2 separate regions of the Homo sapiens genome follow, and region 2 is linked to region 1. Evidence: fine-mapped expression QTL. A gene starts in region 1. The other region holds a variant in brackets. All regions are shown on one strand. Distances are between the middles of the regions. Region 1 holds the start of BRD3OS (BRD3 opposite strand). Region 2 has its middle 17 kb from the start of BRD3.

What was found. PIP is the estimated chance that this variant, and not a neighbour inherited with it, causes the effect.
Region 2: its variant is the best candidate, but not a certain one, in a credible set for the expression of BRD3OS in tibial nerve (GTEx, PIP 0.66).

What each region holds. Positions count from the first base shown.
Region 1 is chr9:134,023,445-134,027,830 of GRCh38, forward strand. It overlaps BRD3OS (BRD3 opposite strand), which reads left to right and starts at 2,037. Exons shown (of 3, transcript NM_001355256.2): 1 at 2,037-2,092; 2 at 2,401-2,646; 3 at 2,764-4,386. The coding sequence starts at 3,304. The coding sequence ends at 3,558. RefSeq lists silencers at 1,471-1,600, 1,911-2,330.
Region 2 is chr9:134,082,641-134,087,026 of GRCh38, forward strand. No RefSeq gene overlaps it. Among named protein-coding and RNA genes, the nearest start is that of BRD3, 17 kb to the left of the region's middle. The variant G/A (reference allele first, on the strand shown) is at 1,695.

The DNA of each region.
Region 1 (4,386 bases):
ACAGGTAACTAAATATTCAAATTATTTAGTTCAAGGCATAGAACAAATTATATTAGCTTAGAGGCAATTTTTTTTTTTTTTTTTTGAGATGGGGTCTCACTCTGTCACCCAAGCTGGAGTGCAATGGTGCAATCTCAGCTCACTGCAACCTCCGCCTCCTGGGTTCAAGAGATTCTCCTGCCTCAGCCTCCTGAGTAGCTGGGATTACAGGCGCCTGCCACCACACTGGGCTAATTTTTTATATTTTTGGTAGAGACAGGGTTTCATCATGTTGGCTAGGCTGGTCTCGAACTCCTGACCTCAAGTGATGTGACCGCCTAGGCCTCCCAAAGTGCTGGGATTACAGGCGTGAAAACCGCACCCAGCCAGATAGAGGTAAAAGTGTTAAATGGGTCTTTGAATACAGGCCTGTTCTTGTGTCTCTTGAAAGCAGTATAACTTCGGTTGCTGTCTTTTCCCAGGTCGGAAGACTGGGAGATCATGTAAGATTTAAACGTTTTCAAATTTGTTGAAACTGATTTATGGTCCAGCATGTGATCAGTTTTGCTAAACGTCCTGTGTAGGTACTTGTGAAGAAAGTGCGAGGCAGGCGGATCACAAGGTCAGGAGTTCGAGACCAGCCTGGCCAATATGGTGAAACCCTGTCTCTACTAAAAATACAAAAATTAGCTGGGCGTGGTTGCCGGCGCCTGTAGTCCCAGCTACTCAGGAGGCTGAGGCAGGAGAATCGCTTGAACCTGGGGGGCGGAGGTTGCAGTGAGCTGAGATCGTGCCACCACACTCCACCCTGGGTGACAGAGTGAGATTCCCTTTCAAAAAAAAAAAAAAAAAGAATGTGCGTTCCACAGCTGTGGGCTTAGTGCTCACACTAAGCATCTTCCTTGGATGTCTGTTATGCTTATTTTCTTTTTTTTTAGAGATGGGGTTTTGCTGTTTCGTCCCAGCTGAAGTGCAGTGGCATGATTATGGCTCACTGCAGCCTCGAACTCCTGGCTCAAGGGATCCTCCTGCCTCAGCCTCCCAAGTAGGTGGGACTCAGAGGTGAGCCACCACACCAGGTTCCATTATGCTAGTTTTCTTAATTGGCATTGGAGAAAACCATAAAATTAGGGGAAAAGGGTAGATACTAAAAGAGTGCTATTGGAGTATGATTGGAGGTGGAGTGAGAAAAGGAAATAGACCTTGCTTTCATGGGGCTGTTGAGGAGTCCAAATGAGCAGTATAGAGGCCTGGCTTGGTTGGATGAGATGGAGAAATTCAAGACCTATTTTTGAGATAGTAAGCCCGGACATTTAATTAATTAAAAATAATTGTATCAATTACTGAGAGTAAGAATACTAATAAAAGCAGTAACAGCAGTGGCAAAAGTAACCACACAAGCAGAAATACGAAAACCAAGATGATAAGACCATACAGTCCGGCAGTGTCTTACTAACAGGGTTGTGGGCGTCCCACTCCTTCTCTTCATCCTCCTCCAGCTCCTCCTCCACGTCTTCCTCCAGCTCCTGCTCCTCTTTCTTTTCCAGTACCTCCTCAGCCCCTTCTCCTCTGCCAGCCCCTCCTCCCACCTCCGCTCCCAGCCCCTCCTCCTTTCCCAGCCCCTCACCATCCAGCCCCTCCTCCTCCATCTCCTCCTCCTCTCTCAGCTCCTCCTCCTCCCCCAGCTCCTCCTCCTGCTCCTCCTTCTCCTCCACTCCTCCTTCTGCTCCTCCTTCTCGTTCAGCTCCTCCTCTCCCAGCCCCTCCTCCTCCTCCAGCCCCTCCTCCTCATCCAGCCCTTTCTCCTCTCCCAGCCCCTCCTCTCCCAGCTCCTCCTCCTCCTCCCTCCTCCTCCTCCAGCCCCTCCTCCTCCAGCCCCTCCTCCTCCAGCCCCTCCTCCTCCTCTTCCAGTTCCTATTCGGGGCGGGCCCAGCCCCTCCTCGCGGAGCGATCGATGGCTTGGGCTCGTCGCACACGCCTGCCCAGCCTCTGCGCTCGGCTCGCCAGGCCTGCGGCGCTGCCATGGAGACACGGCCCAGCGGCCGCCGGCCCCGCCCTGGGAGCCCCGCAGTGCGTCGCGCCGCTGCCCGCATCTCCGAGGCCCGCGACGAGCGGTGACTGGGGCGGGCGACGTGGGGGACCCGGGGATGCGGGCAGACGATAGGGGGCTGGAGGATGGGGCGACCCAGAGCGCGCGGGGTCTGGGGCGCGGGGATGGGGGCCGCGGGCCACGCGACGGGGACCCCAGGGTGCGCGCAGGTGGCGGGGACGCGCGATGGGGGCCCGGGAAGCTGAGGCTGACCTAGCGCAGGCATCCCAGGAGGGGAGGTCCCTGACGCTGCGCAGCTGGGAAGGCGTTCGGGAGTGGGTTGCGATGCTTCCCTGTTTGTTTTCTCCTGACATCGTTTTTGTTTGGGTCCAGGGGCCTCACGGGAGCTGGATGCTCGGAGCAGCAAGGCGGCCCTGGGGGCCCCTTCCGGTCCCGGGGCTGACGCCTGGCGGCGTCTCCGGGAACCCGCGCCCTTTCAAGCGCCGCTGGCTCCTGTTTCACAGATGGAGACCCTGAAGCCCCAACAAGCAGCCTCCCCAGCACCTCCCAGTGACTGAAAAAGCTGGCACTGGGCGCCCGTCTCACTCTCCACCCAGCTCCCAGGCTGCCCCACGGGACGTAAGTAGCTCGATCTAGGCCGCTGACCCCCAGAGACTTGATGCTGCGCTGCAGACTGCCGCCGCTGCCGGGGCGCTTGACTTCCCCTCTCCTGACAGCACGTTCGTTCCTTTGCAGCAGCACCTTTGGGGAGAGACGAGACCTGAACAAACGCTGGGGCTGGATCCCCAGGGTGGGTCAGAACAGCCGTTGCCCTGAAAGCTGGCCCGGACAGATGCGTGCGGGGCGTGCCACCGGAGCTCCTTCCAGCTTGCGTCTGGGGCCACCATGTCCCTTCCTCAGGGCACTGGATCCATCTCTTCAAGCTCAGTGGTCCAGGCCATGGTGGCAGAATCACCCCCCAGGGTGTGACGCCTCGTCCCTGTCAATTCCACACAGCTGCACCCGGAAGAGCTGTGGCCGGGCGCCGCTCTGACCTGTGTGCGGTCCCCTGAATGGGTCTCAGGTGTCTTCAGAATGGTGAGGCCGCCTCATTTCCTCACCACACAACCCTCCTGAGGACGTTGCCTGCAAATGGGCGGAATTCCTAATTTCTACCATTCAGTTAAACGAGGGATCCTTAAGCCCCAAAGCTGGGAAAGCTGTCCGTTAATTTAGTGCGCGTGGGCCGTCTCAGAACAGCAGGGTTCCCAGGAGTCCAGCGGGACGGGGGAGGGGATGAGTGGCCGTGTCCCCCTGGCAGAGAAGGCCTTGTCTGAAGGCTACGCCCGCCTCCGGTACAGGGACACCTCCTTGCTCATCTGGCAGCAGCAACAGCAGAAGTTGGAGTCGGTGCCACCTGGGACGTACCTGAGCAGGAGCCGAAGCATGTGGTACTCACAGTATGGAAATGAGGCCATCTTGGTCCGAGACAAAAACAAGCTCGAGGTCTCTAGGGACACAGGGCAGTCCAAGTTTTGCACAATTATGTAATTCCGATGTGAGCACCTGAACCCAGGACCACACTTTGAGGAAAACAGACCTGAGTTTCATTCAGTTGTCTTGTTGATTTCCAATCCTTGCTGGAAGATTTTGAATAATGAACGTGAAGATCAAACTGTGGTGTAAGAACCCAAGAAGCGCAGAATTGGCCCCCGAACCCCTCAGCACAGCCGCGGTGTGACTGGTGCACAGGACACTTCCCCTCTAGAGTCCCCTCCGTGGTCAGCTGTTGTGACATTTGAATTCTCCAGGTGCTGCTAGGGACAGCATAGGCCCGGGCACTGCTAGATGCTTGGTTTAAACCAGGCCAAGAGTAACCCTCCCATCCCCATTACAAACCACCTTTTCAAGTTTTTTAGGTTTTAGTTTTTTGTTTTTAGCATAAATGGCGGAGTAGCAGCAGCATCTCACCAGGAGCTTTGTCGCATTACATTTTGTATTTTGCTTTTTTGAGACGGGGTCTCACTCTGTTACCCAGGCTGGAATACAGTGGCACAATCACAGCTCACTGTAGGCTCTATCTCCTGGGCTCAGGTGATCCTCCCAAACTCAGCCTCCCAGGTAGCTGTGGCTCCAGGCGAACTACTGTATATAGAGACAGGGTTTCCCTATGTTGCCCAGGCTGGTCTGGTCTTATAGTCCTGGGCTCAAGCCTCCCAGAGTGCTGGGATTACAGGCATGGGTCACCGCACCAAGCCCGCATTTATATTTTGAGTTACCAAAATGATCATCATCTGTGAAGCATCATGGTAGCTTCCAAGCATTTGCGGCCCACTGGCCAGTGCATCCAAAACACATTCAGGAAACCCGAGAGTTGTA
Region 2 (4,386 bases), 59 kb after region 1:
AAAATAAAAGAGTGAAAGCCAGGCTGGGCGTGGTGGCTCACGCCTGTAATCCTAGCACTTTGGGAGGCTGAGGCAGGTGGATCATGAGGTCAGGAGTTCAAGACCAGCTTGGCCAATATGGTGAAACCCCATCTCTACTAAAAATAAAAAAATTAGCCAGGTGTGGTGGCACATGCCTGGAATCTCAGCTACTTGAGAGGCTGAGGTAGGAGAATCGCTTGAACCTGGGAGGTGGAGGTTGTGGTGAGCCCAGATTGCACCACTGCACTCCAGCCTGGGCAACAGAGCGAGACTCCATCTCAAAAAAAATAAAATAAAAAAAAAGAGTGGAAGCCATAAAACTCTTGGAAGAAAACATGGAGGTAAATCTACAAGACCTTGGATTTGACAATGGATTATTTGGTACTAAAGTAAAAGTTCAAGCAACAAAAGAAACAATGGATACATTTAACTTCATCAAAGTTAAAAACTTTTGTGCATCATATCAAGAAAGTGAAAAGACAACCCAAAGAATAGGAGAAAACATCAACAAATCATATATTTGATAATGGCATAGTATCCATAATATATAAAGAATTTATACAACTCAACAGCAAAAAAACACATGAAAAGATGCTCAACACCATGAGTCATCAATGATGTACAAAATCAAAGCCACAGTGAGATTCCACTTAACACCCAGCAGGATGGCTGTAATTTTTGTAAAAAGGAAAATAAATGTTGGCAAGGATGCGAAATAATTAGAGCCCTCATGTATTGCTAGTGGAAATGTAAAATGGTACAGTCACTGTGGAAAACAGCTTGGCAGTTTCTGAAAAAGTTAAACATGGAATTACCATATGACCCAGCAATTCCATTCCTAGGTATACACCCAAAAGAACCGAAAACGGGTGCTCAAATAAAAACTTGTAAGAATAAGAACTGTTCATAGCAGCATTATTCATAATAGTCAAAAGGCAAGAAAAAACAAATGTCTATCAGCCAATGAATGGATGAAGAAAATGTAGTATATCCTTATACAACAGAGTATTAGTCATAAAAAGGAATGAAGTACTGATACATGTTACAACATGGATGAATCTTGAAGATATTAGGGGCTACATGAAAGAAGCCAGAAACAAAAGACCACATCTTGTATGATCCCATTTATATGAAATGTCCACAAGAGGCAAATCCACAGAGACAGAAGGTGGATTAATGGTGGCTCACATCTGTAATATCAGCATCTTGGGAGGTCAAGGCAGGAGGATCAGTTGAGCCCAGGAGTTACAGACCAGCCTGGGCAACAGAGTGAGATGCTGTTTATCAAAAAAAAAAAATTAGCCAGGCATGATGGTCCATGCCTGTGGTCCCAGCTACTCAGGAGTCTGAGGTGGGAAGATTGCTTGAGCCTGGGAGGTTGCCAAGGGCTGGGGAGAAGACAAATGGGAGTGAGTGTTAATGGGTACTGGGTTTCTGTTTAGGGTAAAGAAAATGTGCTGGAATTAGGCAGAGGTGATGATTGCTCAGCATTGTAAATATGCTGGAAGTCATTAAATTATACACTTTAAAATGGTTAAAATGGCAAATTTTATGTTATGTGAATGTTACATCCATAGTAAGATTTTTAAAATTTATTTTGTTTTTAGAGACAGAGTCTCACTCTGTCACCCAGGCTGAAGTGCACTGGCACAACCATGGCTCACTACAGTCTC[G/A]ACTTCCCAGGCTCAAGCAATCTTCCAACCTCAGCCTCCTGAGTAGCTGGGACCACAGGCATCCACCACTATGCCTGATTAATTTTTTTTTTTTTTGAGAGACAGGGTCTCACTATGTTGCCCAGGCTGGTCTCTAACTCCTGGGCTCAAGTGATCCTCCTGCTTTGGCTTCCCAAAGTGCTGGGATTACAGATGTGAGCTGCTACACCCGGCCCAATAATGATAATTTTTAAAAGCCGCTGGCTCACCCTCATTCTGATGGCTAGTTGTCTGGAAGAATGCAGAAGGGAAGGAGATGGTTTCACCCTTGGGAGACACCACCAATCCAAGGCTCTTCAGAAACAGTGGGGCCCTGGAAAGGTTAGCAGTGGGGAGGTGGAAAGAGGTTAAAACACAGAGAGAACAACCAGCGGAAAAGAATGTGTCACCTACAAAAGAATGGCAATAGAGCCGGGCGTGGTGGCTCACGCCTGTAATCCCAGCACTTTGGGAGGCCGAGGTCGGGGGATCACGAGTTCAGGAGATTGAGACCATCCTGGCTAACATGGTGAAACCCCGTCTCTACTAAAAATACAAAAAATTAGCTGGGCATGATGGTGGGTGCCCGTAGTCCCAGCTACTCAGGAGGCTGAGGCAGGTGAATGGTGTGAACCCAGGAGGCAGAGCTTGCAGTGAGCCAGGATTGTGCCACTGCACTCCAGCCTGGGCGACAGAGTGAGGCTCCGTCTCAAAAAAAAAAAAAAAAAAAAAAAAAGGCAATAGAATAGCAGCAAGGCTGTCCATAGCAGAAAAGGAAGCCAGAGAGAAAATAACTGTCTACCTAGAATCCTCTAAATAGTGACACTATTGTTCATGAGGAAGGGCAAAATAAAGACTTTTTCTCAAACTGCCATGAGAGCCCTTGGCAGAAACTGTCCTCACTCTGAGGCCCACTTGAATTGACACTTCAATAAACAGATGTTGAACCCTGAGAAGGAATCATGAGTGAGGAAATCAGAAGACGTGTGGGTAATTGCAGATGAGCTTGGACTGCAGATACCATATATGGTAGGTAGAGACTTCAGGTTGACCCCAAATGCCCATGCACCCCCTTTCTCAGTCATCGAGTCCCCGATTTCTACTGGATGTGAGGCCTGCCCAGATAAAGACTACCTTTTCCAGCCTCCCTTGCAGCTGGGAGTGGCCAATAGGGTAAGAGTAGATTTGGTGTTTGTATCTCTGGGAATGATCCATCCTTCTCTCCTCCCCTAATACTGCTGGAATGGGGCCAGAGGGCCATGCTATAGCTTGAAAGTGTCCCCTAAAAGTTCACATGCTGGAAACTTGTAACAGTATTAAGTGGTGGGGCCTCTAGGAGGTGATTAGTTTCCACCCTCTTGAATGGATTAATGCCAATATCACTGGAATGGGTTTGTTTTCACAAGAGTGGGCTCCTGATAAAAGGATAAGTTTGGCCCCCAATTTCTCTCTGTCTTGTGTACTTGACTTGCCCTTCCACCATGGTATAAATGCAGCAAGAAGGCCCTTACCAGGTGCCTGTGCCGTGCTGTTGGACTTCGCAGCCTCTGGAACCATGAGCCAAATACATTTCTGTTCCTTAAAATTATTCAGTTTGTGATATGCTGTTATACAGCAGAAAACAGACTAATGCAGGCCATTATCTTGAACATGATGCTATTGCTCCTCTGTCTTTAGAAGAGGAGAAACCCCTGCCCAACTGGTCCTGGCTCCTTCCCCATGGGCTTGCTTGCTTTTCTTTCTCTCTCTCTTTCTTTCTTTCTTTTTTTTAGGGTCCTTCTCTGTCACCCAGCTTGGAGTGCAGTGGTGTGATTATGGCTCACTGCAGCCTCACCCTCCCAGGCTCCAGCAATCTTCCTGCTTCAGCCCCCCAAATAGCTGGGACTACAGGCACATGCCACCACACCATCTCTTTAAAGCAAATCCCCATCTGTTTTTTTTTTGTTTTTTTGTTTTTTTTGGGTTTTTTTTTTTGAGACGGAGTCTCGCTCTGTCGCCCAGGCTGGAGTGCAGTGGTGCGATCTCGGCTCACTGCAAGCTCCGCCTCCTGGGTTCACGCCATTCTCCTGCATCAGCCTCATAAGTAGCTGGGACTACAGGCTCCCACCACTACGCCCGGCTAATTTTTTGTATTTTTAGTAAAAATGGGGTTTCACCGTGTTAGCCAGGATGGTCTCAATCTCCTGACCTTGTGATCCACCCGCCTCGGCCTCCCAAAGTGCTGGGATTACAGATATGAGCCACCGCACCCGGCCACAAATCCCCATCTCTTAAAAAAAAAAACAAATCCACAAAGTTCCAAAGAACAAACCTTGAATTTGTGCACTGAGTACTACATTGAATCCACACAAGTAAAGTGATGTTATAGGCATTGTACTAGCTATTTTAAGTAATCTAGAAATGATTTAAAGTATATTTAAACCAGATGGTGGGGCAAAGTGGCTCATGTCTGTAACCCCAGCACTTTGGGAGGCCCAGGCAGGAGGATCGCTTGAGTCCAGGAGTTTGAGGCCAGCCTGGCCAACATGGAGAGACCCTGTCTCTACAAAAAAATGAACAAAATTAGCTGGGCATGGTGGCACATGCCTGTGGTCCCAGCTACTCAGAAGGCTGAGAAGGGAGGATTGCTCGAGCCCAGGAGGTTGAGGCTGCAGTGAGCCAAGTTTGCGCCACT